Homo sapiens: one gene and its partners. The protein of the gene in region 2 purifies or fractionates together with the protein of the main gene of each other region. This does not show direct contact. Each region holds a gene or a part of one and is shown on either strand. Other genes may lie near its edges.

Region 1 (3,500 bases), on a different chromosome or scaffold from region 2:
CAGCGTCTAGGTTGGGAGGCAGACGAGGCCCCAGGCCAGGGCGTTCAGAGCACAGCCTGGGTGGAGTGGGGTTGGCTGGGGGGCTTCCTGCAGTGAGTGAGCTCCAAGGATATGCAGTTAATAAGACGAAGAGAGTGGGTGGGGGCAAGAGGGACCCAGGCTTGGGGAGCCTTAGAGGTGGGTGCCATGCGGTGTGTTAGGGACCTGGGCAGAGCTCAGGCTGTGGGAGCAGCAGGTGGGGAAGCCGGGGTGGGGCCACGGCCACCAAGAAGGGTCAGCTCGGGGGCCTGGGAGCTGGGGGAGGCTTTCTTGAGGGAGCAGCAGGGTCAGATGTGCCCACAGACAGCCCCGACTCTCCTCCAGGGCAGGGAGGCGGGTTGAGGAGGCTGGGGCTGGGGCTGGGGAGGCAGCTAGGTGGGGTCGGGGGCAGCCGCCCAAACTCGAGCCGAGCCAGGACAGCAGCACAGGCACTGTTGTGCCCCTGGCTGCCCTCCAGGAAGGGCATGGACCCACCTGAGGCAGCTTGCCTGGCCCTGCCATCGTTCACTGTGGTGCTGAGTGTGGACAGGTGGCGGGACTGCCTGTCACCTGCTCGGGGCCTACTGTTCTCTGAGGAGGAAGTGGGCTCAGAAAGGGGAGATGTCACCTGGGCCACAGGGCCTTCAGCGTGTTGCTAGGACCATCTCTGAGGCTTCCTGACTCAGAGGCCAGGACTCTGCAGTGGCATCGGGGCTGCTCTGGGGGGTGGAGGATTGGCACTCATCCGGGCCTCTCAGGGTGGGGAGGTGTTGTACTGAGAGCTGGAGGGGGGATGGGGTTAGAGGAGCAGCTGCCCTGGAGTAAAGGACACCGGCGGCATTGCTGCTGAGGGGCAGACACCAGGTCATGCTGTTGGGGAGAAGAGCAAATAGCATCGCAGTGGGCAGTGTGATCATAGTTGTGTGGTATTTTTAAAAATTCACTAAATTGTGTGTCTGTGCAGAGATGGTCTAGAAGGTTCCACCACAGACTTTTTTTTGAGATGGGGTCTTACTGTGTTGCCCAGATTGGACTCAGACCCTCTGGGGTGGGGAGCAGGATGCGGGTTCTGGGGTGAGGCCTCCTTGCCTGTCCCTCTACATTGAGGTGGGGCTGGGGTGCTTTGGCAGAAATGTATGCAGGTAACACTATTGCAATTTGACCAAATGGTAACAGAAGGGCAGGGTAGCAGGCACCTACCCACTCCTCCAAAAGGCAGGCTGGCCAGGGTCATGTGCATGAAGCCGTCGTTCCCACAGAAGCCCCCGCTGCTGGTCTGGGTCAGCACCCGCTTGACCACCTGGGAGAGAACAGGATGTGCGTGAGGCTGCCTTGAGCCCCATCAGGATCCTCAGGACCCAGAGCCTGTTCCATGCTGGACTCTGTGACACTGATCTTGCCTCAGAAAGGGTCTGAGGCCACCATGTCAGCTGAAGGGCCTGTGATGGTACAGGTGGGGCAGGGGGTTGTGTAGCAGCTCCTCATGAAGCTTCCAACTTGGGACATGTTTCCTGGACATCTGCTCATGTGTGGTCCATGCTGATGGCACAGACTCTTAGGGCTGGGGGTAGGGGCAGGAAACCTAGTGTTGCTTGGGGACATGGAGGGTGTAGTGGCAGCAGGGCAGTACTGGACAGTAGGGAGGCATCCCAGGAGAGGGGTGTCATGTGCCTGCTGAGTGGAGGGACTGGGAGGGACAGAAGTTGTTCAGGCAAAGAGGGCACTGCAGACAGAGTGGAGGCTGAAGAGCTGTGTGGTGTGAACACAGGGACATGAAAACATAATGATGTGGTCAGATTTGCACTTTAGAAACAGAAGCTTGGCCCTTGCTTGAAGGTCCTTGAGAAGGACCTTCTTCCTCAATCTGTAGACTTATTTGAAGACTGAAAGGAAAAAAAGATTGGTAGACACTAAATAGTTGCTGCACAAAAACTTCAGTATATTTAGTTGCAATCACCGTGAACCTCTGATCACAGCTGGGTCAGGGCTTGTCTGATGTGGGGAAAGCGGACTGCCCCCAGTGGATTCAGACGTCACTTCATGGCATGAGACCAGCATTACCCACAATGGCAGTGGCAGCAGATGGAGGAGATGGAGCAGAAGGCAGCAGAGGGCGTCCCAGGTAGTACGGGCAAGCCACCTTGTGCATGACTTGTGTCTTAGGTGTGACTGTGTGTCCTGGGATCAGTTCTGGGTGGTCAGAAAAGTTTGAAGCCAGATGACTCCACTGTCAAAAAACCTCTGTAGAGTTTTCTAAAGGTGAAAGTATCCAGATGAAGCAGGGCTCCTTGAAGGAATGGCTGCTTCTGGAGTTGGAGCAGGGGAGATACAAGATGAGCCTGGAGCTGCTTGTAGCACCAGAGGGGAAGGAGGTGGTCACAACCCAAGAGGCTGGGACATCTTACATGGGCTTCTGAGCCCGAGCCTCAGACAAACCACACGACCTTGGATTACAGCCCCTGGAGTCAAATAAATATACCTGAGTCCGTAGTGACCTAAATAAACAATTCAAGAGATGAATCTTTCTTACAGAATTCCAGGAAATAGATGTAGATACTGCTGTTAGCCAAGAATACGGTATCCAGCTAAGACTATGCTTCGTAGATGAAGAAATAAAGCCTTTCCCAGACAAGCAAAGGCTGGGGGAATTTATCACTACTAGATCAGTCCTGCAAGAAATGCTCAAAGGAGTCTTAACATAAAAACAAGTTGGTATTTGCCATAATACACACAAAAGTACAAAACTCACAGGCCCTATAAAACAATCATACAAAGGAGGAAGAGAAAGGTATCAAATGGCAATACAACAAAATTCCACCAAACCACAAATGGAATAAGAAAAGAATGTATAAAATAACTAGATAATAACTAACAATATGATAGAGCAGCATACAGCTTAATTACCTCCACCTGGTGAGGGTGGGGTAGGCTTAGAGACTTGCTTCCAAATAATAAAGAAACAAACAATAGTAGCTTCCCAGGGAAACCCTGGCAGATACCGTCCTGACCCGGTAGTGAAGGTTCCACTCACTAGCCACGTGTGCATCTCAGGTGCCCCAGATGTGGTGTGAGAGGCAGGCTCACCTCTGTGGGATTCTCTCCTAAAACCAGTAACCTTTCTTTAATCATGAGAAATACACCAGATGACCTGAGGCTGGGGATGTTCTACAGGAGACCTGTCCAGCACTCCTTAAGCTGAGAGGGTTATTAATGCAAGGTGGGACCCTGGCTTGGATCCTGGGGCCGAAAGAGGATGTCAGTGGAAAAACAGCAAAATCCAAATAAAGTCTAGAGTGTAGTTAATAGTAAAGCACTGCTGTCACTTTTTTTTTTTTTTTATGGGTCAGGAGATCCTTCCACCTCAGCCTCCCGAGCAGCTGGCATTACAGGTGTGCGCCACTATGCGCAACTAATCTTAAAAAAATGTTTCATAGAGACGGGGTTTTGCTATATTGCCAGCGCTGGTCTCAAACTCATGAGCT
Region 2 (3,500 bases):
TCTCTCAAGTAAAACTCATGGAGTAAAGTCTGTGATTTCTTGACAAATTTTAGTATAAAAATATAATACTGTACTTTCTATCATTATTATATTTTCTTTGTAGTATGTAAAATAGGACAAAATTACATTTATCTTTGTAATTATGTTTTTTTCTTTATATCAAGATACCTTATACTTTTTGATATTTATTTTTAGCTTAATTTAGCTTCATTTTCATACATAAAACACTTAATCACAATGAATTTCTAAGTTGCTGTTTCTTCTTTTTCTTTTTCTTTTTTTTTTTTTGAGACATAGTCTTGCTCTGTCGCGTAGGCTAGAGTGCAGTGCCGCAATCTTGGCTCACTGCAATGCAACCTCCGCCTCCTGGCTTCAATCAATTCTCCTGCCTCAGCCTTCCGAGCTGGGACAGGCACATGTGATCATGCTGGCTAATTTTTGTAGAGACAGGGTTTCATCATGTTGGCCAGGCTGGTCTTGAACTCCGGACCTCAGGTGATCTGCCCACCTCGGCCTCCCAAGTGCTGGATTACAGGTGTGAGCCGCCACGCCTGGCCTTGTTTCTTCTATTCTTTTTAAAGACAGTTTTAGAGACAGTTTTAACTTGATGCTGTTAAATTATTTTTTTATGCCATCTGTTGGTTCTTGGAGAAATTACAAGACACGTTTTGATCAGTAGGAGCTTAATATTTTTAATTTAATTTAATTCTATTTTTACTTTTTTAGAGACAGTGTCTCTCTCTGTTGCCCAGGCTGAAGTGCAGTAGTGTGATCATAGCTCACTGTAGCCTCGAACTCTTGGGCCCAAACAATCCTCCTTTCTCAACCTCCTGAGTAGCTAGGATTACAGGTGCATGCCACCACGCCTGACTATTTTTTTAATTAAATTTTTAAAATTTTGTTTTTCTTTTATATATACATTTTTTATTTTTATAAAGACAGGGTCTTACTATGTTACCTAGGGTGGTCTCAAACTCCTGGGCTCAAGTCATCCTCCTGCTTTGAAATGCTGGGACTACAGGCGTGAGCCACAGTGCCCAGCCAATAAATGCCTTTTTGTCTTTATCGATTTTATATATATATATGTGTGTGTGTTTGAGATGATGCCTTACTCTGTCGCCAAGACTGAAGCCCAGTGGCTTAATTTTGGCACACTGCAGCCTCTACCTCCCTGGGCTCAGGTGATCCTCCCACGTCAGCCACCCAAGTAGCTGGGCCTACAGGTGTGCGACACCACACCCAGCTAACTTTTGTATTTTTTGTAGAGACAGTGTCTTGTCATGTTTCCCAGGCTGGTCTTGAACTCCTCGGCTCAAGCTATCTGCCCACCTCAGCTTCCCAAAGTTCTGAGATCACAGGTGTGAGCTACTGTACCCAGCCATTTATTAATAATTATAAAGCGCCTTTGTGTGTTTTACATATTATTTAAATCATGTTTAGAAACTTTGATTTAAAAATTCTAAGTTCTAGGCTGGGCACAGTGGCTCACGCCTGTAATCCCAGCATTTTGGGAGGCCGAGGCGAGTGGATCACGAGGTCAGGAGATTGAGACCATCCTGGCTAACACGGTGAAACCCCATTTCTACTAAAAATACAAAAAAATTAGCCGGGCGTGGTGGTGGGCGCCTGTAGTCCCAGCTACTTGGGAGGCTGAGGCAGGAGAATGGCGTGAACCCAGGAGTCGGAGCTTGCAGTGAGCCAAGATCGCGCCATTGCGCTCTAGCCTGGGCGACAGAGCGAGACTCCGTCTCAAATAAATAAATACATACATATTCTGAGTTCTAGATCTACATTTTCTTTATTTCTTTTTTTTTTTTTTTTTTTTTTGAGGCAGGGTCTTGCTCTGACACCCAGGCTGGAGTGCAATAACGCTTTCTCGGCTGACTGCAGCCTCCGCCTCCCGGGTTCAAGTGACTCTCCTGCCTCAGCCCCCCAAGTAGCTAGAATTACAGGCATGCGCCACCACGCCCAGCTAATTTTTGTATTTTTGTTTAAGACAGGGTTTCACCATGTTGGCCAGGCTGGTCTCAAATCCTGACCTCAGGTGATCCGCCCGCCTCAGCCTTCCAAAGGGCTGGGATTACAGGCATGAGCCACTACGCCTGGTCCTAGATCTACATTTTCTTTCTTTTTTTTTTTTTTTTTTTTTTGAAACGGAGTCTTGCTCTGTCTCCCAGACTGGAGTACACTGGTATGGTCTCAGCTCACTGCAACCTCTGCCTCCCGGGTTCAAGCAATTCTCATGCCTCAGCCTCCTGAGTAGCTGGGATTACGGGGGCACGCCACCACGCCCAGCTGAATTATTGTATTTTTAGTAGAGAAGGGGTTTCACCTCGTTGTCCTTGAACTCCTGGCCTCAAGTGATCCGCCCACCTCGGCCTCCCAGAGTGCTAGGATTACAGGCATGAGCCACCGAGCCCGGCTTACATTTTAATTATCAATTTTAAGAGGATGTTTTAATGGGAATGAATGTATTTGATATTCAGCCATTCATATTAAATTTTATATTGCAAATTCATAATGCTTTTGATTACCTAATGATGTTCTGAATACATTCAGATATAGTAGGATATTTAGATGTGTTTCTTGGTTTGAGTTTAATTTTACCCTTGGTTTATAATTTGGGGATTTGAACATTTTTCTTATTTTTATTTTTTGAAGGATTGCCTTGACAAGTTCCGAACTCCTTTATATATATGGTGCCCTAGACTCAAGAGTGAGAGCCTTGGTGTTCAGTGTACGGTGCTGGGCTCGAGCACATTCACTAACAAGTAGTATTCCTGGTGCATGGATTACAAATTTCTCCCTTACAATGATGGTCATCTTTTTTCTCCAGAGAAGATCACCCCCTATTCTTCCAACACTAGATTCCTTAAAAACCCTAGCAGGTAAGACTAGAAAGAAACTTCTCCATTTTCTTTTTCCAATGTTATGAGTAAATATAATTACCATGTGTTACCAAAGTCCCGTCTATTTGTTTATTAGTCATAAAATTTGTCTTGACTTTTTTTTAAAGTCTACCGGAGTCACGAGAGCAGATGATTTGGGAAGCTAGGGCCTTTAGCATTTTTTGAGAGTTCTGTTTTCTTTGTATCAGTTGGCAAGGTTGTTTACAGCAGTTGTGAGATAGCTGGAGCTTCTCCCCTAGTTGACCAAGTCTAGAATGACCTTTTTCAGATACAACTTGTTCAGATACAACTTTTGATTGGATCACAGTCTCAGAGATGACTTTCAAATCTGAACTTATGTTTAGACTTGTATTAGAGATACTAAAACTGCTTCGTGATGTTTCAAAGATTCTAAATGTGTTTTTAATGAAAAGCATATAAGCAGTCTTAGGTGCATTATTTTAAATTTGACATACTATATTGTTTGTATTATAAATGATTTTATAAATGCCTCCCAGATTCAAGTGATTCTTGTGCCTCAGCCTTGCTGAGGCCTGCTGGAGAAGTTATGTTATAAAATCTTGAAACTGTAAATGCTAAAGGGAAGATAAT
Region 3 (3,500 bases), on a different chromosome or scaffold from region 2:
GACAATCGTGCAATGTCCCTGGAGCAGGAGTGAGATATCAGATGGACCTGTTCAGGACTGGGGGGGGTCTCACTCCCAGCTGGATCCTTCAAGCCCAGCGCAGCCCCCCAGATTCCACATGTGGGGCGGCAGGGACTCCAGGCCTGAACTATGCATAGCCAGAAGGGTCCATTGCAGGGCTGTGTAGACTGAGGCCCAGAGAGGAGGGCTGAGCAGTCCCAGAGATGCTTGGAGGGACCTCTGTGATAGCCTCGCTTGTGTTTTCCAGGCCCGAGCTGCTCACTGAGGGAGTCAAAGAGCCCATCATGGATAGTCAAGGTACCCAGCGCGGGGTCGGGAGCCATGGTGTGGGCGGGCAAGGGAGGGCCCCAGGCCTCTGCCACCAGCCCCTCCTCCTGCTGCCTCTGTCCTGCTCCCATCCTGGCCCTGGCATTCTCCCCACACCCCCACATTGGGTTTCCCCTAACGATGCCATCTTGGGTCCCAGGAACTGCCTCCTCACTTGGCTTCTCTCCCCCTGCCCTGCCCCCAGAGAGGGATTCCGGGGACCCTCTGGTGGACGAGAGCCTGAAGAGACAGGGCTTTCAAGGTAAGGTTGAGCTCACGGGGAGGTCTGTTGTCCCAGCACCAGGACATTGACCTGGTTTGGGTTTGGAGGGCCAGGCTGGAAGTGGGGAGGAGCTGGCCCCCAACTTCAGGGCCTAAGGGACCAGGCAAGCCAGGTTGGCAGCCCAGGCCCGGCTGTACCCTGCCAGCTCTGTGTTAGAGACTCCAGGGGAGAGGGGGTGCCTACAGGTGGACGGTCGGGGGAGCCCAGGAGCCTGCCTGCCCCCTCCCTGCCCCACCCCCCAGAGGTAGCTGACACGCCCACTCCTTTTTCAGCAATCAGCTGTGGTCTTAGTGCTTTGAAATCAGAATAGGAGCCAGACGCGGCACCTCACGCCTGTAATCTCAGCACTTGGGAAGGTCAAGGTGGGAGGATCGCTTGAGGCTGGGAGCTCGAGACAAGCCTGGACAACATAGAACCCGTCTCTATGTCTATTTTTAAGAAAAGAAATCAGAGGCCGAGTGCAGTGGCTCACGCCTGTAATCCCAGCACTTTGGGCGGCCGAGGCAGGTGGATCACTTGAGGCCAGGAGTTCAAGACCAGCCTGGCCAACATGGTGAAACCCCGTGTCTACCAAAAAAATACAAGAATTAGTTGGGCGAGGTGGCGTGCACCTGTGATCCCAGCTACTAGGGAGGCTAAGGCGGGAGAATCGCTTGAACCTGGGAGGCGGAGATTGCAGTGAGCCGAGATCATGCCACTGCACTCCAGCCTGGGTGACAGAGCAAGACCCTGTCTCAAAAAAAAAAGAAAGAGAGAGAGAGAGAGAGATGGTGGTCTGGGATCCCTCCAGCACATGCTGGCACTTGTCTTTGTTTGTTTGTTTGGATGGAGTTTTACTCTTGTTGCCCAGGCTGGAGTGCAATGGCGTGATCTCAGCCCACTGCAACCTCCGCTTCCCGGGTTCAAGCAATTCTCCTGCCTCAGGCTCCCAAGTAGCTGGGATTATAGGCACGTGCCACCACACCCGGCTAATTTTTGTATTTTTTAGTAGAGACGGGGTTTCACCATGTTGGACAGGCTGGTCTCGAGCTCCTGACCTCAGATGATCTGCCCACCTCAGCCTCCCAAAGTGTTGGGATTACAGGCATGAACCACTGCACCCAGCTTTTTTTTTTTTTTTTTTTTTGAGACAGAGTCTTGCTCTGTCACCCAGGCTGGAGTGCAGTGGTGCGATCTTGGCTCACTACAACCTCCACCTCCCAGGTTCAAGGGGTTCTCTTGCCTCAGCCTCCCAAGTAGCTGGGATTACAGGTACGCACCACCATGCCTGGCTAATTTTTGTATTTTTAGTAGAGATAGGGTTTCACCACATTGGCCAGGCTGGTTTCCAACTCCTGCCCTCAGGTGATCCTCCTGCCTCAGCTTCCCAAAATGCTGGGGTTACAGGCATGAGCCGCCGCGCCCGGTCACACTTGGGCGTTTTTAATGAACACTTTCTGGGTGAGGGTGTCTTGGTGGCTCATGCCTGTAATCCCAGCACTTTTGGAGGCTGAGGCAGGCAGATCACTTGAGCTTGGGGGTTCGAGGCCAGCCTGGGCAACATGGCGAAACCCCATCTCTACCAAAAACACAAAAAAGAAATTAGCCAGGTGCGGTGGTGCACGCCTGTGGTCCCAGCTACTCAGAAGGCTGAAGCAGGAGAATCGCCTGAGCCTGGGAGGTGGAGGTTCCATTGGGAGCCGCCAGGCCCATCCCCTGTGTCTGTGGGGACTGCCCATCCTCCTCCATCTGCTAGATCAGCTGGGCTTCCATTCCCTCGCTTGTCTCCAGCCCCCTAGTGACTTCATGAAGCCCCCGCCCCCTGCCTGCCAGCCCAGGGCACAGGACTCCGTACTCTATGGTGTCCCTCCCCTCCGGGGCTTATTTATTGGTTTGGTGGTTTTCAAATGTCATCAATTAACTTAATTTCCAACTCATCACTGTTGTGGCAACAGTGCATGTCCTTCTGAAAAAAAGACATCTCCATCAACATGTCGGTGCTGAAGGACCTGAGGGGCCCACTCCAAAGATCCTTTAATTGCCGGAGAAGGAGTTCCCCATAATTAGAAAATCATCTTCCTTAAAAGTCACCAAGTGCTTTTTCACTCAACAGCCCAAACCCATAATCGTTTTGCGCTTTGCAGAAAATTATGACGCGAGGCTCTCACGGATCGACATCGCCAACACACTAAGGGAGCAGGTCCAGGACCTTTTCAATAAGAAATACGGTAAGCAGTGCAGAACCCCCGGGGAGGGACACGCAGCTGCTGTGCACAGAGAAGTGGGAGGCTTCCCAGTTCCAGCCGAGGGCATTTCTGGGGAAACAATTCACCCCTTTACATGTATTTCTTGAGCATATACTACGTGCCAGGCACTGTCTCAGGCACTGGGGATATTGCTGTGAATAAAACAGACACAGTCCCTGTACTCATGAGCCTTGCAGACCAATGAGGTGAGATACACTTTCAAGAACTACACACAGAATTTAATAGACAAGGGCCCGGCACAGTGGCTCCTGCCTGTAATCCCAGCACTTTTGGAGGCTGAGGCAGGTGGATCACTTGAGCTCAGGAGTTCGAGGCCAGCCTGGGCAACATGGCAAAACCCCATCTCTACCAAAAACACAAAAAAGAAATTAGCCAGGTGCAGTGGTGCACACCTGTGGTCCCAGCTACTCAGGAAGCTGAAGCAGGAGAATCGCTTGAGCCTGCGAGGGGGAGGTTGCAGTGAGCTGAGATCGCGCCATTGCATTCCAGCCTAGGCAACAAAAGCGAAACTCCGTCTCAAAAAAAAAAAAAAAAAAATGGAGCATATGACATGGGAGCATATTGGTGTGGCTTTTTCTTTCGTTTCTTTTTTTTTTTTTTTTTTTTTTTTTTTTTTGAGACAGGGTCTCACTCTGTCACCCATG

What was found.
Region 1: the proteins of MTPAP (region 2) and ALDH3B1 purify together in Homo sapiens (co-immunoprecipitation; one large-scale study listed by IntAct). This does not show direct contact.
Region 3: the proteins of MTPAP (region 2) and GTF2IRD1 purify together in Homo sapiens (affinity purification with mass spectrometry; one large-scale study listed by BioGRID and IntAct). This does not show direct contact.

The regions. Positions count from the first base shown.
Region 1 is NC_000011.10:68,023,827-68,027,326, reverse strand, and holds part of ALDH3B1 (aldehyde dehydrogenase family 3 member B1), read right to left. Parts: intron 2,526-3,500; exon of another isoform or gene 2,266-2,525; intron 2,141-2,265; exon of another isoform or gene 1,995-2,140; intron 1,319-1,994; coding exon 1,219-1,318; intron 1-1,218. UniProt on the Homo sapiens protein: Oxidizes medium and long chain saturated and unsaturated fatty aldehydes generated in the plasma membrane into non-toxic fatty acids. May have a protective role against the cytotoxicity induced by lipid peroxidation.
Region 2 is NC_000010.11:30,321,779-30,325,278, reverse strand, and holds part of MTPAP (poly(A) RNA polymerase, mitochondrial precursor), read left to right. Parts: intron 1-2,661; coding exon 2,662-2,888; intron 2,889-3,500. UniProt on the Homo sapiens protein: Polymerase that creates the 3' poly(A) tail of mitochondrial transcripts. Can use all four nucleotides, but has higher activity with ATP and UTP (in vitro). Plays a role in replication-dependent histone mRNA degradation.
Region 3 is NC_000007.14:74,554,906-74,558,405, forward strand, and holds part of GTF2IRD1 (general transcription factor II-I repeat domain-containing protein 1), read left to right. Parts: intron 1-268; coding exon 269-318; intron 319-487; coding exon of another isoform or gene 488-532; coding exon 533-589; intron 590-2,733; coding exon 2,734-2,817; intron 2,818-3,500. UniProt on the Homo sapiens protein: May be a transcription regulator involved in cell-cycle progression and skeletal muscle differentiation. May repress GTF2I transcriptional functions, by preventing its nuclear residency, or by inhibiting its transcriptional activation.